Homo sapiens: one gene and its partners. The protein of the gene in region 4 purifies or fractionates together with the protein of the main gene of each other region. This does not show direct contact. Each region holds a gene or a part of one and is shown on either strand. Other genes may lie near its edges. The genes, in order: UHMK1, RDH13, GSTK1, L3HYPDH, MMUT, ALDH7A1 and MAPK13.

Region 1 (3,500 bases), on a different chromosome or scaffold from region 4:
GAGGTGAGGGTTCATGTCACTTAACCCCTACCCTTTTGGGCAAATTTTGTCTCAGGTAGTGTTTCATTCCCTAAATTAATACCTGTGCTTCCTTGCCTCTCACCTTCCCAGTTACTTCTTTGGGGTATTACTGTGGCACATTGTACACCCAGAAAAGGCACATACAGTGATTATTTTGTGGGAAATACTTGATTCTTTTGAAATATATTTGGAGGGGGTAGCTAGCTAGCCACTGTCAAAACTAATGCTGTATTTACAGGACAAAAACAAGTAGAGTTGGACACCTCAGTAAGAGACAGCATTAACTAAAAGTACTGACTGCCTTTTAAAGGAATTTTTAAAACTATTCTCTTGCAATAAGAGATCCGCATTTATTACCACTGGATGTCTTCCTTTTTTGTGGCCACCAATATAGCAGCTCTCTTTAGAGGGATTCCCTTTCTGCTATGCCTTGAGCCAAACTGGCTGCTTTTAGAACAAAAACCATAAGTATGGTTTTACTCGAACTTCTCTTTGTTTTTATTGAGAGAAATATTGCCTTCTTTTTGGTACTCCAGCTGCTAAAGAGTGCTGAGATATGTTAAATTATTTTTTAAAAGAAAATCTCCAAATACTTATTTAACTTGTCTTCTAGATTCATGTTGCTTATATTTTAACTATTGAGCAAGTTTATTATAAGGAATGCTGCCATATAGAGAAAGCTGAAGAGAAACCATGGGCAGAAGGCTTTTTTCTGTCTTATTACACTGGACCTTCACTCTGGTAAGGGCATCAGTTACTTTTCTGGAATAAAAGGCGGAGTTAGAGCACTTATCAGATGCTGTTTCATGGCTTGTTTTAGTTAATTTATCATGCAGATAACTAACATTTGGGTATCTTTTTGTTTTAGGTCTTATTTTCTGACTGTTAGGCCTATCTTACACATAAGTTCTACTATCAGTATACTTGGCAGCATGACTTTTTTTTTTTTTTACAGTTAATTTAATGAAAATCAGCACCATTGTAAATGATAGTAATTGTAACAACATAGTTACTGGGTGAAGGAGTAGGGGAGACACTCAGTAACCATCTATTTACCTAGACACTTATGCAGGGGTACATGCTAGGTGGCTTTATTCAGATTCGGGTACATTGGAATCACATCATGACTTTGAGTCTGATGGCTGTGTAGATAAAGATTTAAGCAAGTGCCTTGTGTTTGCTGGAAAATATTAAAACTCATTTGGGTGAAAGCTTCCCAGATGATGATAATTAATAGCACTTCTGCCTTTTTCCTGGAGTAACTTTTAGATTGAGTCACATATGATAGTATAAAAGTCCAAAATTTTCTGGGTTTACCTTTGTTTTATTTTTCATATATATATTCACTGTCTGCCTGGAAATAGCCTTGGTTTACCTTATTTTTTTGTATATGTAAAACTATTCATATTTGATTTTATTCCAATATTATATATGATGGAAAAGCCAGAATTGTCTGGCAGAATTTAATTCTTCCTTGGATCTCTAGTTCTGTTTTTAATATCAGGTTCCTTCATCAAATTTTACTACTGTAGCTCTGTGATATAATTTCATTTCTTGTCAATTATGGTCACATATAGACAAGTACTTGGTCACAATTAGCTCAAAAGAATCCCCATTTCTTAAGGTGCTCAGTCAATCACCTTTATTTTGAGATGGTAGTTTTTCAAGTTAGTATTACTTACTAGCTTTCTTGATGAATATAAAAATGTTGTCTCCATCATACAGAGCTGAGCCTCTTGTGGTATATTAAGATAAGTCCCATTCTTAATCACAGAAGAACATGGATATTTTAGTTTTTGGAGTACCCAGAATTGTAAAGATTTTGTTTCATTTTGTTTTAGGATAGCTTCTCTGCCTAATACTATAGGATATGTCATGTTCGTTATTGTAGCCACCTCCCTCAGATGTTTTTCACTATTTTTAAATTATATAATGACCAGTAGATTCACAGTAGCATGTACTTGACAAGTGCCATGGATATTTAAGAAGAAGGTAAATAATTTTAATATTTTTTGCTGTAATTTTATAGGAGCAGTGGACTGTAAGAGAAATATCTATAAATCAGAGAGTATTTAGGAAACTTTGTATTTTATAGGTGGTCATTAAAGTGATCTTCAGGATATAAGATAGTTTACACAAACTTTATTCTCCTGATAGGAAATTTTTATTCATTTTCCTACCACTCAGCACTTTTGTTCTGCCTTGTACTGCTTATGAGGATTAATGTTTTAAATTTGCTTTATTTGTGCTTTTCAGAGAGTTGTCATAATTGTGGCAGTTGTGTTTGTGGCACTGTAAATGCTGAAATTCATGGGAAACTTACCAAATGACTGCTTGAGTGTTATTTCCCATTAAATTGGGTAGCTGTCACAATAACCAGAAGAAATCTTGTGGCCCTTTTGAAGAAAGCCATGTATGTTTTGTTACCTAGGTTCATAGTATTTTAATTTAAAGGCAAAGAGAAGCATTCTACTTATTTGTCTTATAAACCATTAATCGTTTTTTGTGCAGAAGAGAGCTTATTTTGTTATACTGCTTTGTATAATGGAAATAAGTCACATTCTGGGGGAAAAAAACTGGAATTGTTTGTATTTTGTTTTTTTGGGGGGGGATCTTTATGTGAAAAATCAGAGCTACTTGTTACCATAAGCCCTTACTATCAACAAGATAATTATTTGTAATCACTTTTTTATCCCAGGTTGGAATTGCTTTCCCCTTCTAAGTTATCTTCCCTTAATAATATTTATGATACCAGGACAGTGAGGGTATAAGAGCAAATGTAGTGAGGTATTCAAAAATCCTGCATATATGGACTCAAAAGTTCTTTAGTTATTTGAATTATATATAGCTATATTATTTTATTAGCTTGGGTTGTCAGAAGATTGCCAATTTTAAGAGTAAAGAGGAGAGAGATAAGTAATAAAAATAGAGGAGGGGAAGAAAATGGCTCCCTTACTGGTCTTAGTAATCTTCTATATAGTTAATGAGCTAAAAAATGATACTTAAAGTTCCAGGTTTGGTACCGCTAGCATAGAAACATTGCCTTTCCTACACATTCCTCATCATTGTTTCCTCAGAAAATTATTTTAAGAGTTTGTGAAACCAGATTAAATATCTATATTCAGTTTGGCCTAATTTTTAAAAATAAATATTTATACTCCAGCTTTTGTGTATTTGGTGTACATCACCACTTATGCAAATCAAGGATCAGAAAACTGGAGGTTAGCCATCTCCATTATTTCCTTTTGCACATTGGGTACAGTGGGTGGCATTAGTATGCACTAGCTGCAAAGTCACAGCACCTTATGGAAATAAGTATGTTTATTATAATAAAAAAAAGTTAAGCTGCATCTCTGTAGATTATTTACTTTGCAGACTGTAAAGCTGCCCTATCTTTTCCAGCAGAATTTACTCTTCCATTCTTAATTCTTTTTTGAAATATCTTAAATAATTTAACATTCCTTTATAACTTCTTAACA
Region 2 (3,500 bases), on a different chromosome or scaffold from region 4:
AGACAGGAGAATCACTTGAACCGAGGAGGCAGAGGTTGGAGTGAGCCAAGATTGTGCCACTGCACTCCAGCCTGGGTGACGAGCAAAACTCCGTCTCAAAAAAAAAAAGACATTTATTTATTTATTTATTGAGACCTGGTGTCTTGCTCTGTCACCCAGGCTGGAGTGCAGTGGTGTGATCTCAGCTCACTGCAACCTCTGCCTCCCGGGTTCAAGCGATTCTCCTGCCTCAGCCTCCTGAGTAGCTGGGACTACAGGTGCACACCACCACACCTGGCTAATTTTTGTATTTTTAGTAGAGACGGGGTTTCACCATGGTGGCCAGGCTGGTCTCGAACTCCTGACCTGAGGTAATCCGCCCACCACAGCCTCCCAAAGTGCTGGGATTACAGGCGTGGCTATTAGCCTCGCCAAGTTAAGATTCTTGATGCCAACCAATCACCCACTCCATGTTTTTCAGGATTATAAACACTAGTCATAAAGCATGAACTGCCTGGGGGTGGTGGCTCACACCTGTAATCCCAGCACTTTGGGAGGCAGTTGGATCACCTGAGGTCAGGAGTTTGAGACTAGCCTGACCAATATGGTGAAACCCCACCTCTAGCTGGGTGTGGTGGTGTGCACCTGTAATCCCAGCTACTTGGAGACAGGAGAATCGCTTGAACCTGGGAGGTGGAAGTTGCAGTGAGTGGAGATCATGCCATTGTACTCCAGCCTGGGCGACAGAGCAAGACTTCATCTCAAAAATAAGTAAGTAAAGCTCCAACTGTTTGTTCCACCTATTCTCTGGGCGGGGTCCTGTGCTGGCCCTTTCAAGGAAGGTCTCGTATAACCCCCCCAGTGACTGTGAGGTGAGTCCTATTAAGGCCTGCACTCTGCAGATGAAGAAACAGGCTCAGAGGGGTAACAGCTCTTCCCCAGGAGGTGCAGCTGGTTTGGGGTGAAGCTGGAGTTACCCTGAGTACAGCCTGACTCCAGGCGTCAGCTCCACGGCCTCTTCCTCTGAGACACGGTTTTCTCATCCGCCAGCAGGGCTCTGCCTGCTTCCCGGGGCTGTTAGAGGCTGGCAGGCCAGGTCAACGGAGGAAAGGGACCTGTGCTCTGTGCCTCAGAAGACGTAGGCGAGGAGCAGGCATGAGGCCTCAGGGACGGTCTCTGAGGGAGGGTCCTGGGCCCTGGGCTGAGAAAGCAGGGGTGGAGGGCTCCACGTGGAGACCCCAGGCTGGGAGGGGACTCACCGAGTGTGGTGCTGGAGAAGGTGGAGCCATGGATGCCCGTGTGTCTGCCCAGCTCTGTCCTGGCCACGCCGGGGTGCAGGGCGTTGACAGTCACACCAGAGCCTGGGGAAGAAAGAAAGAGAAGACTGAGGGAGGGGTCCAGCCTCACCTGGGAGGCTGTGGCAGCCCACACCCAGCTGTGGGGCTTCCGGGCACCAGGCTGCTTCCTGCACTCAAACCCCATCGTCCCTCTTGCTCTGGAATCTTAGTGAAGTGGTCTTATCTTGCGGAGCGGCTCTGCCACATGGCTGCTGGGAGCCGAGCTTTCCTGGAGGGCTTCATAAACCCAGAACGCTGAGCTTACCCCGGGAGCCTGCATCGGTGCGTGGCGGTGGGACCTAAGATACTGTAACTCTGACCAGCTCCCAGTGGGGCTGGCACCGCTGGTCCACAGACCGTCTTTCAGAAGCAAAGGCCTAGCACAGATTTCTCAATCTCAGCACTGTGGATGCTGTGGGTTGGGAGGAGTGAGGGGCCATCCCGTGCGCTGTAGGACATTGAGAGCATCTGGGCCTTTACCCTCCAGATGCCCAGAGCAATCTCTCCCCAAGCCAGCTGTGATCACTGTGTTTCCAGGCATTGACAACTGCGGGTCAAAACTGCCCCTGGTTGAGACTCACTGGCTGGAGCCAAAAGGCTGAGCTGCCTGCCCAACAGCAGCAGGGAAGGACATCTGATCCAGGCAGACTAGACCACCTGGGATGAACAGACAATCCTCAGAAGAACGATCGATTAGTGATGTCTGCTTCAGGCACCAGAAGCGGGCAGCGTGGTCCACATGCTCTACTTTTGCTGACTCTGTTCTGGATCCACCGTTTGGCCTCCCATCAGCCTAGGATCATGGAAAGGCCGCTCTAGGCTCAGAGTAAAGCAAGAGGGAGGCCGAGCCTAGCGCCCCCGTACCTTGCAGCCGCCGGCTCAGCTCCTTGGTGAAGAGGACGATGGCGAGCTTGCTCTGGCAGTAGGCGGCTTTGGTGTTATACTTCCTCGTCTGCCAGTTCAAGTCGTCAAAGTCTATGTGCCCAGCAACATGGGCCAGGGACGAGAGGTTGATGATCCGCGAAGGGGCTGAGGCTTTCAGCTTGTCCAGCAGCAAGTTTGTCAAGAGAAAGTGACCTGGATTAAGGATGATGAAAAGGTCACTTTTGACTCACACCTAAAATCCCAGCACTTTGGGAGGACGACGGGGGAGGATCGCTTGAACCCATGGTGCAGCCCCTGCCCAGGCCTCACCCAGGTGGTTAACGCCAAACTGCATCTCGAAGCCGTCCTCGGTGGTCCAGTGGGGGCACCGCATCACACCCGCGTTGTTGATTAGAATGTCCACTCGCTCCTCCTCTGGAAGAGAGGGGTGGAGGAGGAGACATCCCGGTGAGGACAGACCCCAGCCTGATGCACCAGCAGAAACACTCCTGTGCTCCCACAACCTGTGAATGTGGCCTGTGCCGGAAACAGGGTCTGTGCCGAAGTGGCCATGTCAGGATGCGGTCATTAGGGTGAGCCCTAATCCAATGACTGGTGTCCTTATAGGAAGGGAAAACAGAGACAGAGACACATGGGGAGAAGGCCATGTGTGGACAGAGGCAAAGACCGGAGAGGCACAGCTCCAAGGTGAGGGTGGGCCGCCCCCGCTGGAAGTGGAAGAGGCTGGGAGGATTATGGCCCGTCTCACAGGTCACAGCCACAGGGACACCGCGATTCAGACTGCCGGCTTCCGGAACCGTGAGGGAATGCACGTCTGAGGGTGTAAGCCACTGGGTTTGCAGTACATTGTTACAGCAGCTCCAGGACACTCACACGCCCTCCGCACCTCCATCTAAGCCTTGGGACTCCTTCCTGCCGGAGCCCCGAGGCCAAAAACGGGAGGTTACCGGTGGGAGCCCCGGCACCGCAGGCGTGGTTTCATTCCCAAACCTGCCACCTCACTCATACAAGCAACCAAAGGACACACAGATGGAGACTGCAGCCTCAGTTTCCTCAGCTGTAAAATGCGCTGAACCACAGGGCCTTCCTCCCTGTACCACTCAGCTCGGGTTCCGTAACAAAGTGCCACAGACAGGTGGTTTAAAACCTCACAGACCTGGCCGGGCACAGTGGCTCACGCCTGTAATCCCAGCACTTTGGGAGGCCGAGGTGGGCAGATCACCTGAGGTCAGGAGTTTGAGACCAGCCTGGCCAACATGGAGAAACCGCGTCTTTACTAAAAATACAAAATTAGCCAGG
Region 3 (3,175 bases), on a different chromosome or scaffold from region 4:
TGGAGTTTTCTCAGAATCTGCACTGAGGGTTAAGGGAGGTATCTATGAAAGGGTGTGCAACTTCCCCAAACCGCAGCAACTCCAGCCAGTTTCCCGGTACTGCCTTGCCCTGGTTTTGCAGGTGTGGCTGGACCCAGTTTAAATATCTGGCCACAAGCTCAGCCAGACTCTGGTTCCCTCGGCTGTTCACTCCCACTGGGCTTCTGGTCCCAGCCCCATCTCAGTCACTGTGGTTGGTCAGAAGACAGTAAATCCCAAACTTGATTAGTTGCAAAGTCCATCTGGCTTGGTTTTCTGTTGCTGATAGAGAGACCAGGGGAGTTTCTGTGTGAGAGAACGGGGGACTATTCTCACTTCTTCCACCGCACAAGCTGCTCAAGGTGGGCTGCATGGCTGGTCTGGCTGGAAATACTGAAACAGCTCTCCTTCACCTACCCCTAGAGTAGGCAGGATGTGACCCCAGGAATGAGAATATACCAGGGCAGATACAGACACAGAAATGTTTTGCCTGATGGCATTAGGTTTATTTTGTGGGAAAGCAGAATTGGGGCTCTCTGAAAGGCACTTGTGAGGCATAGAAGTAAAGGTTGCCACATGGCTAATGGTGGACGTCTTCCTGGCATCCTTGGGGGTAGGGGAAAGACAGACAGCTCCCAGGGCCACAGAAAATACCTCTATCAGATAGAGAAATCCGAGTCCCAGTGCCTTATGGTGGAGCCAAGGGTTAAGCAGATGGCCTGCTTTTTTTATACGAAGAGTTTGCTTCCTCCGGGCAATCTTAAAGTCTGGCATTCACGGCTGGAGGTATAGGGCCCATCCACTTCTCTCCTGGATGAAGAAAACAACAGACTCTGCACACTGTTCTCAGGTGTTCTGGCAGCAGGAGTTGGTCCCACAAGGTCCCAGGGGTTTTCTAGAAAGACTTTTGCTTGGCTTCAAGGTATAGAAGGCTTCCTTTTCTTTTATGGGGTTGAAGACAGCCCCTGCCCACTCAACCTTGAACAGCACTGACTGCATAACGCTTTGTTACTGGAAGTGCCAAGAATATTTTTTTGCTCTGAGCCCCTCCTTCTGGTCAACTGATATAGTGGGTGTGGAGCTGGGGTCAAAGGCAGCTCAGGGTTGAATCTTTTTATTTTTTGAGACGGAGTCTTGCTTTGTCACCCAGGCTGGAGTGCAGTGGCGCGATCTCGGCTCACTGCAACCTCCGCCTCCCAGGTTCAAGTGATTCTCCTGCCTCAGCCTCCCACTGAGGCAGCTGTAGTCCCAGCTAATTTTTATATTTTTAGTAGAGACGGGGTTTCACCATGTTGGCCAGGATGGTCTTAATCTCCTGAACTCGTGCTCTGCTCGCCTCAGCCTACCAAAGTGCTGGGATTACAGGCGTGAGCCACTGCACCTGGCTCAGGGTTGATTCTTTAACTTACTTACCCAGCAGGTGCGCCAGCAGCTCCATCCGGTCAGAGCCAAATAACATGTGGGTTTGGCCATCCACATGGGCCACGGTGATGGGCAGCCCAAAGGCCTGGAGAAAGCAGTTACAATGCAAGGAGGAAGGCAAAGGAGCAGGTATTAGGCAGGGGTTGAAACCTTTGAGTCAGTACTTTTCTGAGTTCACAGAAGCAAAGAGGTCTAAGAGGCTCTGTGGCCCCAGGTGCCTTCCTGTTTCTAAGATGCTCTCTTTTCTCTCACTGTGCATCTCCTTCCCTTCCTTTCCCTGAGCCCAAGGAAAAGAAGGAAGAAGATGAGGGTTGTTTAAGAGCACTGAGGAGAACACTTGGAAAGGGGGCTTTTGTACAGGAGCATAAGGACTCAAACTTAGAGATTCTCAAGTCTCCATCTTCAGGATGGGTGCTGGGAACACACATAAAGAGCTGCTCACTCCGTATCTGCAGGCTGCCTCAGTGGTCTCCTTGAGCTGGTTCTTCACCTTTGGCGTTGCGATCTTTTCCAGAAGTCCCTGGGCTTGTTCTGCAGACATACCAGCCTTCTCTGCAGCCTAAGGGAATATAGTAGGGAATACAACTGTGTCTGCATGATATTGGATGGGGATCTCAGAGGAAAACTCTGGTCTTTTTATTTTCTGCCCCCAAGTTTTGCTGGCAATGCCCTTACCCACCCACAAGTGGAGATCTGTCCTTGCCAAGAGGAACTATTTCCTTTATCCCAAATCTTGAGATGGGTGGAAAAGGAGAAAAGGTAGATGGCACAGAGTCAATCACAGAAATTAACACCAGCGGACATCTTAGAGAGCAGCTAGATAGACCTCTTTATTTCACAAATGAAGAGCCTGAATCCAGAGGTGATACATTACTTGCTCAGAGTTACAGAGCATGTTGGTAGCAGAGCCAACACTAGAATCCAGGTCTCTAGAATTCAAGTCCAGGGCTCTTTCCTTCCTACCTCTCACAGTTCCTAAGTATCTCATGCTTTTTTTGAATCAAGAGCTAGGCTGTAATTCCAGTGGAACTTCCTGAGAACTTTGTAACAAGGCACATGGCTGCAGCCACCTACCTGGCTTCAAGACAAAGATAAAGGCTTCAGTTTGTGGTTTGTTGGTATAGTTTGGGATAGATGGTTCTTAACTTTGGCTGCCCATCTGAAACTCCTGAGGAGCTTTAAAAAATCTCCACGTGAGGTCATCCCTTAGAACTAGATCCAAGCACTGTGGCTCATGCCTGTAATTCTAGCACTTTGGGAGACTGAGGCAGGAGATTGCTTCAGCCCAGGAGTTCGAGACCAGCCTGGGCAGCAAAGTGAAACCCCCATCTCTACAAAAAATTTTTAAAAAATTAGGCATGGTGGCACATGCTTGAAGTCCCAGCTACTCGTAAGGCTGAGATGCGAGATCACTTGAGCCCAAGAGGTTGAGTCTGCAGTGAGCCATGATCATGCCACTGCACCCCAGCCTGGGTGACAAAGCAAGACACTGTCTCAAAAAAAAAAAAAAAAAAAAAAAAAAGAAAGAAAGAAAAAAAAGAACAAGAACAATTACATCACAATTCCAGGGGAAAGGGTTAGCGCCAAGGTGCTCCAGGTGATTTTAATTCACAGCCAAGATTGACAACCACTGCAACTTGACTTCCTAGATCAGAAGTGGGACCCAGGAATTCATGTAGCCTGTCCTAATGAGACACTATCTTTGACTTGGTTAAATTAGAGAATTATGTCCTAC
Region 4 (4,052 bases):
GGGCTACAGAAGGAGACTCCGTCTCAAAACAAACTGCGGTCTACATGTGAATTAATTTGAAAAATTATGCATCTTTTGACTATTCTTGAACAATCATTTCCCAAATTATTCACGAATTCACAATCTAGACTGCCTGGTCTACAGTGCCTTCTCTCCTTTCACATTCAAGCAGACTTTTTACTTCCTTCTCCTTATGCTGCTGAGAGAAAAAGAGAAACAGCATTGAATAATATTCCTCCAGTTTAATATTTTCGCTTTTAACAAATTTCGGACTTAGCTTTTTAAACCCACTGGCCTCTTTAATGGGCGCTTATTTTTTTTGTAACCAATTGTAATCACAATGTTCTAAATTAATACATGAAAATGAATATTTCAGGTTTTTCAAGAATGCAGAAGGTAAGGAATTGGAAACTTCTGTATGGGCTTTACATCTAGTAGATGCTTAATAAATACACGTGAATATCAATAATCTAAAGTTTCTCAAAATCCAAGGCCTGAAAACCAGTATGATAAACTGAACTGAAATAAACAGCCTATCACTTACTAAGCAAAACCCAGGCTCCAAGCGACTGTTGAATTTCTCCTTTCATTTCCTTTAGCGAACGATGGCTAAAGTTTTAAGATTCCATTTTTTTGCAGCGGTCCTGCCCTTTGTGACGGGCGCTATAAATCTACGTTTGAGGTTGAAGCAGTAGACAAATTATGCAGCAACTTGCTTCTGCTTTACTGTTTTTTCTGCACTATCACCCGCGTTTTCAATTCCGAAGTCAACCCTCAAGCAAGTGTTCCCTCGACATTAAACTAAGGGACTGAAGAGACATTTCGGACCAAACAACAAAGACCTGGCATTTCGCCGCAGACAGCGCGCCTCCCCTAGTAGCCCGTTGCGGACAGACCACCCCAACCCCGCAGGAGTGCGGAGCCCGGCCCGAGGGCGGGCGGGGTCAAGGGGCGAGCCTGCGCCGCCAACCGAAGGCCGCCTACAAAGAGCCGAGCCCGAGGCCAGCCGTGTAGGAAAGTAGTCGGGACTACCAGAAACGCTTCCCGGGATCTTGGCGACCACTCACCCATGGGCCGCCTGAAGGTTTTTTTCGAGAAGCACTAGATCAGCGGATCTGGCAGCTGCACCGAACATCCGGGCCACAGCGAGCTCGGCGGCTCCGCCTCCCGGTAACCCGGGCGACAGCTCCGAAGTTCCTCCCTCGCTTCCGGGTTTAGGCTCCGAGACCCCGCCCCCCGGACGTGGCTGGTTAGCGTCCCGCCCTCCTCCCGCGGAGTCAGTGGGTGAGGGTCGGGCTTGAAGCCATAGCTGCGGGACCGTACTCGTCTCCCCCGACGCAGACCATGGAGAGCGCGCTGGCGGTGCCCCGGCTGCCCCCGCATGATCCAGGGACGCCGGTGCTGTCGGTGGTGGACATGCACACGGGCGGCGAGCCCTTGCGTATCGTGCTGGCGGGGTGTCCGGAGGTGTCTGGGCCCACCCTGCTGGCCAAGCGGCGCTACATGCGCCAGCACCTTGACCACGTGCGGCGACGGCTCATGTTCGAGCCCCGAGGGCACCGGGACATGTACGGGGCGGTCCTAGTCCCGAGCGAGCTGCCGGACGCGCATCTGGGCGTCCTGTTCCTGCACAACGAGGGCTACAGCTCCATGTGCGGCCACGCAGTGCTGGCGCTGGGCCGCTTCGCTTTGGACTTCGGGCTTGTGCCGGCGCCCCCTGCGGGCACCCGCGAGGCCCGCGTCAATATCCACTGCCCCTGCGGGCTGGTGACCGCCTTCGTGGCATGCGAGGACGGCCGCAGCCACGGACCGGTGCGCTTCCACAGCGTCCCGGCCTTCGTGCTGGCCACAGGTAATGGGCGGGACCTTTCCAGCCCAGGGCAGAGCTGCAACCGGGACGCGACTAACTACATTAACGGTTTTTCTGGGCTGGAACTCTGGCAACTAACCTACTCCGCGAAACCTTGCAATTAATAGAAAGGTAAATCACTGCCAACGTGTGTCAGCAGCCTTGCGTATTTGGTGCGTGTAATTTCGATTTTCCCTGACTCCCATCCGCCTGTGGTTTTGGGAGACCCTTGAGGAGCGAGGAATTGCGTGTTACCCTGACTCAGCGCCTCCCTCTGCACTGGTGAGGCATTCCTAGAGATTTCACCGGTGGATAAAGCAAGGTACGGTGGGGTCAAGGAAAGAGCGAAGAACAGCCAATGTACCAGGGTTCCAGGCTGGCTGAGAATATGCTTGGTAGACACAGAATCACACTTAATAAGTTACTAAACCTGGTCTCCTTTCCTCACCTCCCCCACTTCTTTGAAGAATTAAATGAGAATGAATGAACAAAGCAGTTTATAAATCATTAAGATACGAATGTTGCTTTTCTTTAAGAACAGGAACACACATTGCCTGGTTTCAAATCCTGATAACCCCCTAAAGCTGTGCAACCTTAGGCAAATTACTTAATCTCTCTGTGCCTGTGTTTCTTCTTTTCCCTCATAGAGTTTTTTTGTTAGGATTAAATGAGAGTATGCAAGATACTGTATTCCTGGAGATAGATTGCAAGGTTTATATGATCGCTAAAGTTCCCTAGGCCTATTGAGCCATTAAAAGGTTTTGCTGGATTCTCTAGTACAGATCCTTGTACAGCTTATCATGTAAAGCAGGGCATCTCTATAACCATAACCCTTACAGGAGGGATGACCTGGCAAGCTGGCATCTGGTTTCTCATCAGACTACTACCTCCCAGGAGCTGAATTCTATCAGTAAGAATGCTTTAGTCATTGTGACTGGAAGTGAGCCAGGAGCCAGTTTACCAGGAATAGAGTTATCCTTTTCTTAAAAATCTTCAAGCCATGCAAATCATCTGTTAGAAAGTTGGACCTTGATTCCCCCTGAAGAACTAGGTTTCAGATTAGCCTGATTATGAATGATAACTGATAGAACAGGCACTTTTAGAGCAACCTTAGGCAGCTGAAATCCACGAGTTAACGAAGAATGCCTCTGGAGAAATTGATGCCATTTTCCCAGAGAATGGTGTCACTTCCAGACTGGGAGGCCACTTGAGGGAGACAGAATTTATGTTTACGATTCCATTTTTAAAACCTCAACAGTTTAACTAGCGTGGCTACCAGAATTCCCCCTAGGCAACTCCAGCAGCAGAGTAGAAACACTCTAGACTTCTGTAGGAAATGGCAGCTGGCAGCAGGAACACAAACTACATCTCATTTCTGGGTCAGTTAGGGCAGGGTCAGTCAACCACTTGACCTCAGTAGTTCCTCTCAGTAGTTCCTGAGAGCATCACTGTATGACAGTACAATGATTAGTGGGCATTAATGGTCACTGAGTTAAGAAAATGAAATGCTATATTCTCTACTTTGAAAAATGCATACAAGGCAGACATAGTGTTCAAGGTCACTGCCCCACCTCTCCCCATCTCAGTGACCTTGTGCTAGAGAGTCCATGCCTCAGTATCACAGTCTGCAAAATGAGGATGACAACAGTACCCACCTCAGAGGGTTGCTGAGTTCATCTCCACCCCACCAGGCTAAAATGCAAACTCTTTCTTGTTCACAGTATTCTAAGTGCCTAGAAGAGTAGTCAGTCAATGAATGTTTGTTGAATGAGTAACTAAATAAATGAAATTTGGAGAAGAATATGCTGATTGACAAATGTAAACATCTGGTCCTCTTGAGAAACCTATTGCCACTGGAAATTAAAGTTTTGGCTTTCGAGTCCCTAATCTGTGCCAGGAACTCCCCATACGTGGAATTTTCAAAACAACTCTTTTAGGAGAAATAGCAGTTACAGTTTGCACAAGACACCAAAGCCACACTAATGGCAGAACTAGGGTTGGAACCCTGGCCTATCATATTGCTTCCCTCTCATCCTTAAAATTTTTTGTAGTTTAAGGAGATATGTTTCAATTTTCTAGAATAGTGCTTAGTGTATTTTAAAGCATTTTAAAATCTGTCTTGTCCAACTAAACTCCAAGAAGGGGAAAAGCCTATGTTTTATTCCTTGTACTTCTCGTATCTTCTACAGTAATCGGCACATAG
Region 5 (3,500 bases), on a different chromosome or scaffold from region 4:
ACTATATGTTGAAACAAAATGGGATAAAATGCATGGCTTTAAAAATCAAAGATTTCAGTTTGATTTACTGTGACATTTAATACTAAGCATATCCCAGACAGGTTCTTTCCACCACAATCACTACAAAAACTGTATTTCCACTATTCCCCTAAAATTTCATGTTAGGTAGAGTACATCACACATATCCTGCACAGCCAAGAAAAACTATCTTTACCAAGAGTTAACCAAACATAAAATGCTTGCTACACAATGCTTGCTAGAGTTTGGAGATAACAGTAATTACAAGGGTTGATAAAGATAAAAAGGGTTGATGACGATTTTCTCTGTGCCATGAAATAATGATCTAACTTTAACGTAGGTAAGGAGAAGGAGTACGTTGCTGGTAAGAAGCAAAGAGTGAATAATGGGGGGAAATATAAACAAATTGCTCACAGGAAAATGAAGGAGGAAAATGTGTCCCTATGGAAGGATTTTTCCCATCATTCTTATTGGGAAAGATGAGCCTAATTCAAGGGTGAATATTAGGGACCTCCTTGAGGTTGCAGATATGAGTGATAAGTGATATCTTCCAATTCAGCTTTTAGCAGAAATAAAGCTGATATTCCAATCCCCATTTGTCTGATACCAGTGTCTACTTCACAACTGCATCTGAATTTCGGAGGGAAATTTAAAAATGTAAGTAGAAGACCTCCCTGAATCTAACAATTATCAGAGTTAAATTTTAGGAATAAAGAAAACACAGTAAAGATCTGTTGCCCAGATTCCTGCAAGTAACGACAGAACATAAAATTAGTACATTAAAAACAAAAAGTAACAATAACAAAACATTCTAAATTTATATTACTCAGACTAAATTTTTAAATTCAGTTATAGCATGTTGTAAAAATTCCTACATTCAAGGAACTATAGAAAAACCTATAATAACCACAAAGTATACCTTTGCTGTATATTCAAATATGTCAGCAATAATTTTCATGGATGGTTCTGGAGGAAAAATGTATGTATTTCGAACCATAAATTCCTTTAGTATATCATTTTGGATGGTACCAGTAAGCTTCTCTTTAGGTACACCTTGTTCTTCTCCAGTTACTATAAAATTTGCAAGAACTGGAATAACTGCTCCATTCATAGTCATGGAAACTGACATTTTTTCTAAAGGAATTCCATCAAAAAGAATTTTGGTATCTTCCACAGTGTCAATAGCAACTCCAGCCATTCCAACATCACCACGAACTCGAGGGTTGTCTGAATCATAGCCACGATGTGTCGCCAGATCAAAGGCAACTGATAATCCCTGCTGACCAGCTAAATATATAAAGAAAAATAATGTAAGATTCAAGAGTCTGGAATCAAGGTAAAATGATTTACTTTTAACACTACTAAAAATGTTGATTCATCTCATAACAGTACACTTTTATAACAACTATTTTTATGCTCATACATGTCAAAACCAACTTAAATAAAGATACTTCACTTCTTAAGAGAGTCAGTTGTTTCCCTTGTGCCAAAATGCACAAATTTAGTTCCAGACCTCACTAAAGGAAAGAATGGGAGAAACAACAAATCTCAATCATCTCGTATCTATCTGAAGATATGGTACTTGATTGAAATATTTCTAAAATTCATGAAAAGATCTGGCTGTTCATATATGGCAAAAATAACTTAGCATTTGTATGCTTGCTTACTATTTTGTTCTTTTATCTAATATGGTCACAAAGGATTCCTGGCTATTCAAATATTCTGGAAAACAGAATTATGACCATCGTACAAAATTTTTAAATAACTAAAATAGTCTATACTAAATGTAAGTTCAACCTTCCATGGGCAATACAAACTTATAAATCTACAAGTTTAGTATTCAAACAGTACAATTTTATTACAGCTCAGAAAGAAGAAATAATAGTTAAGATAATTTTCAGTGAATGAATGCCAGGTTGCACTGAATATGTTTGTACCACGTTATCACATTTACACTTTCTTTGGGCATCATCTAAACTATCTTCCTCTCCAATCGCTATCCCAACAATGTTAATTGAACATTTTTCGAAGGCAAAGCTAATGTCTTCTTTTCTTCATGCAACTTTACCTCACCTAATTCCTTTTAAACAACGTGCATGTGTTGTTTTCTTTCAAAAATTTAGCACCTTATTCTAATTCACTTATCTTTTTGACCACAGAAGTTAAAAAAATCCACTTTTTTCAGAGTATAGTCTTTAACTACAAAATTATAGAGTGAATATCATCTTTACAGAGATTAACCCCCAAAAAATAAAAAACTAGGAGGCATATGACTTATCATAAATATTATGTCTTACATTAAAATCTCACCCTTAATGTTGTCCTTATAGAACTTATTGCTTTCTTCCACAGTACTAAAACCAGCATACTGGCGGATGGTCCAGGGCCTAAAGGTATACATGGTAGGATATGGTCCACGTGTGAATGGCTTCACTCCTGGAAGTTCTTCAGGTAAGTCCATAGTATCTCTCTTGGAATACAAGGGTTTTATAGAGATCCCTTCCGGGGTGTGCCATATTAGGTCTTCTGGGTTTTTGCCTTTCAGCTGCTTTTTAGCCAGGGCAGCCCATTCTGGGTGAAGGGGCTGTTGCTGGTGTAGAAGTCGTTGCTGTATGAGCCTGGAGCCTGATGATTCTTTTACCTGCCTCAGGTAATGAGGTGAAAGTAAAAAAAGCTGATTCTTAGCTCTTAACATGGTGGAGCATGGAAACACCCAATAGAAATAAGAACTGACCTAGAAAAAGAAACATAGAGTAAAAACATTTAGAAGAGGGGGTGGGAAATAGGAGCTACTCATAAGAAAGGAACAGAAAAGAAAGAGGATGTATTAGTCTGATTTCATTTCTTCCCCTTTTCTGCTTCCTGCACCTGATATTTTATAACTTTGGCCCCTCTTCTTCACAATTACTATCAGTCCTGTAGTTTCAGTCTTTTTCCTCAGTAGCCTCTTAGCTGGTCTTACTGACCAGTCTTACTCCTTTTCTACTCCATTCTATACGAATCCCTTCCATACAATGACATCAATGTAAATATGACTATGTCACACTCCTCATGGAATTTTTCAAAGACTCTGTATCATGTGGAAGATATACTACAGCCTCCTAATTAATTTTTTCATTCAAAGTGCTTTTATTAAATATCAGTTTATGACCGACATTATGTTGGGTAATAGAGAAAAAAGTGATGAATAAGACAAACAGGCATTCAAGGCCTTCATGAACTGGTCTCTGTTTCCCCCTCAGACCCATCTCTGTCTTTGTCCTCTTTATGCATTTTGTGCACTAGAAATACTGGATTACCTACAGTTGGCTGCACATATGTCAAAGTTTTCTGAATTTGCTCTTGCTCTTCCTTCTGCCTAAAATGTTCTTCTCTGGCTAATTCAGCTAAGGCATTATCTCCAATTTGCAGCGTTTCTATGTGCCAGTAACATAGAAGGCTATAAAGACATCACAGAGAGTAGCAATTTTAATCTTTACAAT
Region 6 (3,500 bases), on a different chromosome or scaffold from region 4:
GGGCTGGGCACGGTGGGGTTACAGGCATGCACCACCACGCCCAGCTAATGGGATTTTTTTTTTTTTTTACCGTTTCTTTCTGTTTCCATTTCTTCTTAATTCCTTATATTTTATTTTCCCTCTTAATTCCTTTTTTCTGTTTGTTTTGGTCTCTTGGTCTCTGTCTTTGATTTGTTTGCAGGGGAGATATTGTGGGCTAAATGTAAAGTAAATAATCAGGTTGTTCTGGTGTCCTTTTGGTATCTTCTTTTCATTGATACCAACTATGAGCCCACATGGAAACTGCTCAGAAGATATGATATTATTTTTTATTTCTCTAGGAGGAGAAAAGCACACTGGTGGTGGCAGGGAGTCTGGCAGTGATGCCTGGAAACAGTACATGAGAAGGTCTACTTGGTAAGAAAAGGCTTTGGGAAGATAGGTTTGGGCTTAAAACCCTTGGGAATGGGCTTTTACACTTTCCTACTGTCTGTGCTGTCTTTGTGCAGTGTCATTTGATTTGATTTTTCCAGCATTCCACAGCTGTCTCCTCTAAGTATCTATTTGGTGCTATTTTTCTAGCCTTCTTGTCTAGCTTCAGCTAGTGCCCAGCACCCAACAATGAAATGGTCTCGTGCGTGGTTTCTGTATTTTTAGTAGAGTTGGGGTTTCTCCATGTTGGTCAGGCTGGTCTCGAACTCCCGACCTCAGGTGATCCACCCGCCTTGGCCTCCCAAAGTGCTGAGATTACAGGCGTGAGCCACAGCACCCGGCTAATTTTTGTATTTTTAGTAGAGATTGGGTTTCACCGTGTTGGCCAGGCTGTTGTTGAACTCCTGACCTCAGGTGATCTGCCTGCCTCGGCCTCTCAAAGTCCTGGGATTACAGGCATGAGCCACCATGCTGGGCTGTTTCTTGCACTTTTGAGGGCACACTTTTTTTTTTTTTTGAGATGGAGTCTTGCTCTGTCACCCAGGCTGGAGTGCAGTGGCCTGATCTCAGCTCACTGCAGCCTCAGCCTCCGCCTCCCAGATTCCAGCGATTCTCCTGCCTCAGCCTCCCAAGTAGCTGTCATCACAGGCCTGCACCACCATGCCAGGCTAATTTTTGCATTTTTAGTAGAGACCGGGTTTCACCATGTTGGCCAGGCTGGTCTTGAACTCCTGACCTCAGGTGATCCACGCCTGCAGTGGCTCATGCCTGTAATCCAAGCAGTTCAGGAGGCTGAGGCAGGTGGATCATTTGAGGTCAGGAGTTCAAGACCAGCCTGGCCAACATGGTGAAACCCCGTCTCTACTAAAAATACAAAAATTAGCCAGGCGTGGTGGTGCACAGCTAATCAGGAGGCTGAGGCAGGAGAATCGCTTGAGCCTGGGAGGCGGAGGTTGCAGTGAGCTGAGATTGTGCCATTGCACTCCAGTCTGGGTGACAGAGTGAGACCCTGTCTCAAAACAAAACAAACAAACAAACAAAAACCACCACCAACAAAAAAAACCATGTATGGTATGTCTTTCCAGATTTTTATGTTTCTGTCTTTTTTCTTTTAAATAAAACGGGATCCATACTAACATTGTCTTTTATCTTAAAGGTTTGTCTTAAAAAGTTGTAACTTGGAGATCTTGCCTTGTTAATATATACAGATCTGCTACATTTTAAAAGTGGGCATGAAAATCTTCTGTTATGTATGTACTGTCATTAATTCTGTTATTTTTTCCCACTAGTACTATCAACTACAGTAAAGACCTTCCTCTGGCCCAAGGAATCAAGTTTCAGTAAAGGTGTTTTAGATGAACATCCCTTAATTTGAGGTGTTCCAGCAGCTGTTTTTGGAGAAGACAAAGAAAATTAAAGTTTTCCCTGAATAAATGCATTATTATGACTGTGACAGTGACTAATCCCCCTATGACCCCAAAGCCCTGATTAAATCAAGAGATTCCTTTTTTAAAAATCAAAATAAAATTGTTACAACATAGCCATAGTTACTAAAAGATGAGTTAGGTGGATTTTTATTATGTCAACTAGTTGTACATGGCTTTTTAAAAGTTAATGATTATTTTGTAATTAGAAAAAAATAGTACGTACCAGGGTAGGAATTTGGGAAAATACAGAACCGAGGAGAAAACAGAAGTCTTTGCAGTAGATACAGGGTGTCTCCTGACCAAGTGAAGGATTCAGGGGCGGGGGGTGAATATTGCTTGACATTACCCACCTATGGCATGTGTTGGATGTCGTGTGATTGAAAGGGGGATGCATTCCCCTGTATGCTTGGACCACAGTTCAGTATTCATGTGGAATAACTTGCAGTGCTTAAAATGACAACAGGCATTCATCACAGTTATGGCTCTTGCTTATGAAGGCTGTGTCAACTTGGAAGAGATTTCTGGGGTAGACAGATTTTGTTCCTGTGCTGGAGTCTGCCACCTGCTGGAGGACTCTGAGGCCAAAATTGCCCGTGCAGAGTTGTATAGAAAATGCGTCTGGAGGCTGGGCAAGGTGGCTTACGCCTATAATCCCAGCACTTTGAGAGGCCGAGGCGGGTGGATCAGTAGAGGCTAGGAGTTTGAGACCAGCCTGGCCGATATCGTGAAACCCCGTCTTTACCAAAAAATACAAAAATTAGCCCAGTGTGGTGGCAGGCACCTGTAATCCCAGCTATTAGGGAGGCTGAGGCAGGAGAATTGTGTGAACCCAGGAGGCAGAGGTTGCAGTGAGCCTAGATTGTGCCACTGCCTGGGCAACAGTGAGATCCTGTCTACAAAAAAAAAAAAAAAAAAAAGTGCATCTGGATTTTTTTATACAACCTTAGACCACCTTCTTTAGCTTTAGGCGTCTGCGGTTGCCCTTGGATCTGTTCTCAATCCTCAGTGTGTGTGGCAGCATGTGGTCATAGAGAGCTGGGCAAAGTTCACTTTCTCTTTGCTGACAGTCTCACCTTTTCTCACTGGGAAGCTGCACAGGAGCCTTTGGGCTGGTTCAGCCCAGAGGCCCCTGTTCTCCTGCCTTCCTGGCATTCTCTGCTCCCCTTCTGCATGGCACCCCTCTACTCCTGCCAGGTTAGAATGGAGCAGAGGCCTTTGAACAAGATGACATTTGTAGACAACCTGATCCATCAGGATGTGGAGAGATCTGGACAAATGGCAAATAATTTGGGGTTGAATTATGGCCCAGAGAAGTAAGCAAATGAAAAACTAAACAATTATAAATGTATCTGGGAAGCAAAGGTATTCATAATATGTCCCATGGCCAGCTGCGAGCAGTATTTAACTAGACATGCTGTTGTCAATATTGAACATGAATCAAGCCAAATACTGATATAGCTATTGAGAGAAGGTTGGCAGGAAGAAATCATGGGTGAGGGTATGTGGGAGTGATAATCTTAGCTATAGATTTTAGGTAAAACTGATTCTGAAAGCTTTCTTTGAAACAAATTTATAATTTTTCTTCTACATGTTTCTAGCACAAGGACTCAATTTTTTTTGGTTATAATGTTCATTAAAACATATGCCTTCAATTTGTTCCTC
Region 7 (3,500 bases), on a different chromosome or scaffold from region 4:
ATAAAGTGTCTGTTGAAGGAAGGAATCCCTAGATGGAGTTTGGCTTTTCCAGCAAAGGATACAATCTTTCCCCTTGAACAGAGTTTTCCCTGTCAGCATCTCTGCCATGATACAGCCCACAGACCAGATGTCCACTGCAGAGGGAGGGAGAGTGTCACCTGGACTGTCTGGGGCCCAGCAGTCAGTCAGCACCGAGTGACCAGATGGCCCCAGGACCGCCCTCTCAGGCATTGACCACTGACCTGTCTGGTTGTAGTGCATCCAGCTGAGGATCACCTCGGGGGCTCGGTACCAGCGGGTCACCACGTAGCCAGTCATCTCGGCGTCTGCATGTCGCGCCAGCCCAAAATCCAGAATCTATGGCACAGGGGATAAATAGAAAAGGAACTTGCTGAGGGGAGGAGGCTCTGGGAGCGGCTTCCAGGGGCTTCCCTGGGGGAGGGCCTATCCCGCCTCTGGGCTGAGCCTGCAGCCCACTCACCTTCAGTTCACAGTCCTCATTCACAGCCAGGTTGCCTGGCTTCAGGTCCTGGGGGGAGGACAGAGAATGCATGCTAGGCTGAGGCAGAGATGGAGCTTGTCCTAGCTCCACCACCACCCAGGGGTGTGACCTCAGCCAGGCCCCTTCCCCTTCTGGGCCTCAGTTTCTTCATGTGTAAAATGAGGGTTGGACTAGGTGTTCTCTCAGGGCCCACCCAGCTCTAAAATGTTCCTGATTCTTGAAGCCTGAAACACTCAGCTCAGGGCTCACTTTGTCTGCAGCAATTCCCCATGAAGTCCCCTGGGACACAGTGACTCTTTTGAGCAGGCCTTCCTGGGCCGTGGCTGGGTGTGAAAACTCCACATTCTGTGCTCCTGGGCAGTGTCCCCTCCCTCCAACTTTCCCACTCCTTGATTGCCAGAGAACCCCATACCCAGGGATGGGACAGGGGCCTCTGAGGACCATGGCAGAGAAAGCACTCACCCTGTGCACGACCCCAGCAGAGTGGATGTACTATGTGGGAGAGAGAGAAGGGTGAGTCCATGGCCCAGCTTCCACACCAGGCACTTCAGGCTGGCCGACCTGTAACAGTGCGCTCCCTCCAGCCTCCCCAAACCTCAGGTCTAGACAGCAAGGCGTCCCCTCTGCCAGCCTCCAAGTCCCCACCCACCTTAAGGCCTTTGAGCATCTGATACACCAGGTACTGGATCTTCTCCTCACTGAACTCCATCCCCATGATCTTCTGCAGATCCGTCTGCATGAAGGGCATCACCAGGTAGCTGGAAGGCATGAGGGGTTCTTGGAACAGTGCCGGGTCCCACCCAGCCCCAGGTCAGAGCTCAGAGGAGGGACCTCAGGGCAGAACAGGGGTCATAGAGACACCCTCCAGTGTGCAAAAACTCAACTCCACCTCAGCCAGCCAGATCACCACACGGGCCTCTGGGCTCCTGGCTCCCAGTCTCCCTGTGGCGGGCCGCCCAGCTGGCAGAGCTCGGAGTAAGCGCTGCAGTTGGAGCGCGCTCAGGAAAGCCACATGGAACTGTGTTCCCGCTCTTCAAAGGTACTCTCTCCTTGCCCTCCTCCACACCCCAGGGAAAGCCACAGCTAGGAGTTAGAAACATCTGCCAGTATTTCCTTCGGCTTCTGTCCAAATATTTGATCCCTCAGAGGGTCATGCCCAGCTGAGATGGCTCCACAAACAAACAATATGTCTACCTTTCCAAGAAGGAAACAATACAACAGTTTCCAGGAGGGTGGAAGAGGGAGATGGGGAGGCTCCTGCAGCCTCTTAGGGGATTGCACAACAGGATAAGGCCAGCAAAATGTAACTGTTACAGTAAAAGCAAAGACCAGGACAAAGACAAAAAATAATAAAAATTATAAAATAGGCCAGGGGCATACCTCCAATCCCAGTGCTTTGGGAGATGGAGGCTGGACGATCGCTTGAGGCGAAGAGTTTAAGACCAGCCTGAGCAACATAGGGACCCATCTTTCTTTCTTCCTTTCTTTTTTTCTTTGAGATGGAGTCTTGCTCTGTCGCCCAGGCTAGAGTGCAGTGGCGTGATCTTGGCTCACTGCAACCTCCACCTCCCAGGTTCAAGCGATTTTCCTGCCTCAGCTTCCCTGAGTAGCTACAACTACAGGTGCACGCCAGAACGCCCAGCTAATTTTTGTATTCTTAGTAGAGACGGGGTTTTGCCATGTTGGCCAGGCTGGTCTCGAACTCCTGACCTCAGGTGATCTGCCTGCCTCGGCTTCCCAAAGTGCTGGGATTACAGGCGTGAGCCACCATGCCCGGCCTGGACCCCACCTTTCAGAAAAAAAAAAAAAAATTAGCCAGGTGTGGTGGCATGCACCTTTAGTCTTAGCTACTCAAGAGGCTGAGGTGGGAGGATCACTTGAGGCCGGGAATTCGAGATCAGGATGAGTAACATAGTGAGACCCCATATCTATAAAAATTAAAACAAAACAAAAAGCTGGACATGGTGGCATGCATCTGTAGTCCCACCTACTTGGGGGGCTGAGGCGGGAGGATGGCTTGAGCCTAGGAGTTGGAGGCTGCAGTGAACTGTGTTTGTGCCACTGCACTCCAGTCTGGGCAACCCAGCCCTATCTCTAGAATATAATAAATTTAAAACTTTTTTAAAATGAATGTTACCTTAAACAATTATGTAATAGGTTGTGTTTTTTGTTGTTGTTGTTGTTGTTGTTTTTGAAAGGACATGCTGGAGGCATCTCCAGGAGACTCTGGATTTTGGCAGCCCTCTCCTGCCGGACCACACACCTCCCTTGGGGGCCTCTCCATGCCCAGTCCCCTCCTGTGTCTTTCCCCTCCACTCGGGCACTGGTTCTTTCATCTTGGCAACATGCTTCCTGAAGCCTCTCTGTGCTAGAACCACATTCCCTTGACTTTGCTTCTTCAACTGACCACCCCTTCTCCCTCTCTCACCACCAAACTTCTAGAAAGGGCGGTCCACACTCCTGGATCCCACTGCCTTACCTCCCAGTCCTGAGTTAACCTGGTTTCTGCTTCCCTCCTACTGCCAGACTGCTCAGCTCAAGGTCACCAGTGAACACCCGACAAACACACCATGACTCCCTTTTCTTCTGATCTAACCTTTCACCAAGTCTGAAACTCCCTCTCAATTCTTTGCTGACTCTCCTCTGCCTCCTATCAGGCCCTCTCAGCTTCTTCCATCTGCTCATCCTCTTGGATCTTCTCTTTCATGTTGATATCTGAATCAATACTATCTTACCACATTCTACAATTATCTGTTCCCGGGTGTCAGCTATAACCCATCGGTGATTATTCCAGCACAAATCCACATCCCTAGCCCAGACCTTCGTCTCCTGAGGTTCATATTTATTTGCAACTGTGATTAAACATTGGAATGTTCACAGTTTCTTTAAAAGTAAAGTGTCCAAAATGGAGTTCGTTATCTTTCCCCCAAGATCTGTTCTTCCTCTACCGTGTATTTCAAGCAGGAACCTGCCCATTCCTCCACCTCTGCCACCTCAC

What was found.
Region 1: the proteins of L3HYPDH (region 4) and UHMK1 purify together in Homo sapiens (affinity purification with mass spectrometry; one large-scale study listed by BioGRID and IntAct). This does not show direct contact.
Region 2: the proteins of L3HYPDH (region 4) and RDH13 purify together in Homo sapiens (affinity purification with mass spectrometry; 2 studies listed by BioGRID and IntAct, with this or other methods). This does not show direct contact.
Region 3: the proteins of L3HYPDH (region 4) and GSTK1 purify together in Homo sapiens (affinity purification with mass spectrometry; 2 studies listed by BioGRID and IntAct, with this or other methods). This does not show direct contact.
Region 5: the proteins of L3HYPDH (region 4) and MMUT purify together in Homo sapiens (affinity purification with mass spectrometry, with the first as the bait; one large-scale study listed by BioGRID). This does not show direct contact.
Region 6: the proteins of L3HYPDH (region 4) and ALDH7A1 purify together in Homo sapiens (affinity purification with mass spectrometry; 2 studies listed by BioGRID and IntAct, with this or other methods). This does not show direct contact.
Region 7: the proteins of L3HYPDH (region 4) and MAPK13 purify together in Homo sapiens (co-immunoprecipitation; one large-scale study listed by IntAct). This does not show direct contact.

Annotation. Positions count from the first base shown.
Region 1 is NC_000001.11:162,525,318-162,528,817, forward strand, and holds part of UHMK1 (serine/threonine-protein kinase Kist), read left to right. Parts: 3' UTR 1-3,500. UniProt on the Homo sapiens protein: Upon serum stimulation, phosphorylates CDKN1B/p27Kip1, thus controlling CDKN1B subcellular location and cell cycle progression in G1 phase. May be involved in trafficking and/or processing of RNA.
Region 2 is NC_000019.10:55,046,149-55,049,648, forward strand, and holds part of RDH13 (retinol dehydrogenase 13 isoform 1 precursor), read right to left. Parts: intron 2,616-3,500; coding exon 2,511-2,615; intron 2,394-2,510; coding exon 2,181-2,393; intron 2,110-2,180; exon of another isoform or gene 1,898-2,109; intron 1,341-1,897; coding exon 1,239-1,340; exon of another isoform or gene 957-1,238; intron 1-956. UniProt on the Homo sapiens protein: Retinol dehydrogenase with a clear preference for NADP. Oxidizes all-trans-retinol, but seems to reduce all-trans-retinal with much higher efficiency. Has no activity toward steroids.
Region 3 is NC_000007.14:143,266,441-143,269,615, reverse strand, and holds the end of GSTK1 (glutathione S-transferase kappa 1), read right to left. Parts: intron 2,000-3,175; coding exon 1,883-1,999; intron 1,526-1,882; coding exon 1,432-1,525; intron 829-1,431; coding exon 779-828; 3' UTR 501-778; downstream 1-500. UniProt on the Homo sapiens protein: Glutathione S-transferase that catalyzes the conjugation of glutathione to exogenous and endogenous compounds. Significant glutathione conjugating activity is found only with the model substrate, 1-chloro-2,4-dinitrobenzene (CDNB).
Region 4 is NC_000014.9:59,481,609-59,485,660, reverse strand, and holds the start of L3HYPDH (trans-3-hydroxy-L-proline dehydratase), read left to right. Parts: upstream 1-1,252; 5' UTR 1,253-1,344; coding exon 1,345-1,852; exon of another isoform or gene 1,853-1,981; intron 1,982-2,085; exon of another isoform or gene 2,086-2,171; intron 2,172-4,052. Other genes in the region: JKAMP (JNK1/MAPK8-associated membrane protein), read right to left, coding at 545-590. UniProt on the Homo sapiens protein: Catalyzes the dehydration of trans-3-hydroxy-L-proline to Delta(1)-pyrroline-2-carboxylate (Pyr2C). May be required to degrade trans-3-hydroxy-L-proline from the diet and originating from the degradation of proteins such as collagen-IV that contain it.
Region 5 is NC_000006.12:49,456,754-49,460,253, forward strand, and holds part of MMUT (methylmalonyl-CoA mutase, mitochondrial precursor), read right to left. Parts: intron 2,753-3,500; 5' UTR 2,714-2,752; coding exon 2,329-2,713; intron 1,306-2,328; coding exon 938-1,305; intron 1-937. UniProt on the Homo sapiens protein: Catalyzes the reversible isomerization of methylmalonyl-CoA (MMCoA) (generated from branched-chain amino acid metabolism and degradation of dietary odd chain fatty acids and cholesterol) to succinyl-CoA (3-carboxypropionyl-CoA), a key intermediate of the tricarboxylic acid cycle.
Region 6 is NC_000005.10:126,543,220-126,546,719, reverse strand, and holds part of ALDH7A1 (alpha-aminoadipic semialdehyde dehydrogenase isoform 1 precursor), read left to right. Parts: intron 1-320; coding exon 321-396; intron 397-1,700; coding exon 1,701-1,755; 3' UTR 1,756-3,500.
Region 7 is NC_000006.12:36,133,513-36,137,012, reverse strand, and holds part of MAPK13 (mitogen-activated protein kinase 13), read right to left. Parts: intron 1,261-3,500; coding exon 1,152-1,260; intron 995-1,151; coding exon 965-994; intron 530-964; coding exon 482-529; intron 358-481; coding exon 243-357; intron 135-242; coding exon 63-134; intron 1-62. UniProt on the Homo sapiens protein: Serine/threonine kinase which acts as an essential component of the MAP kinase signal transduction pathway.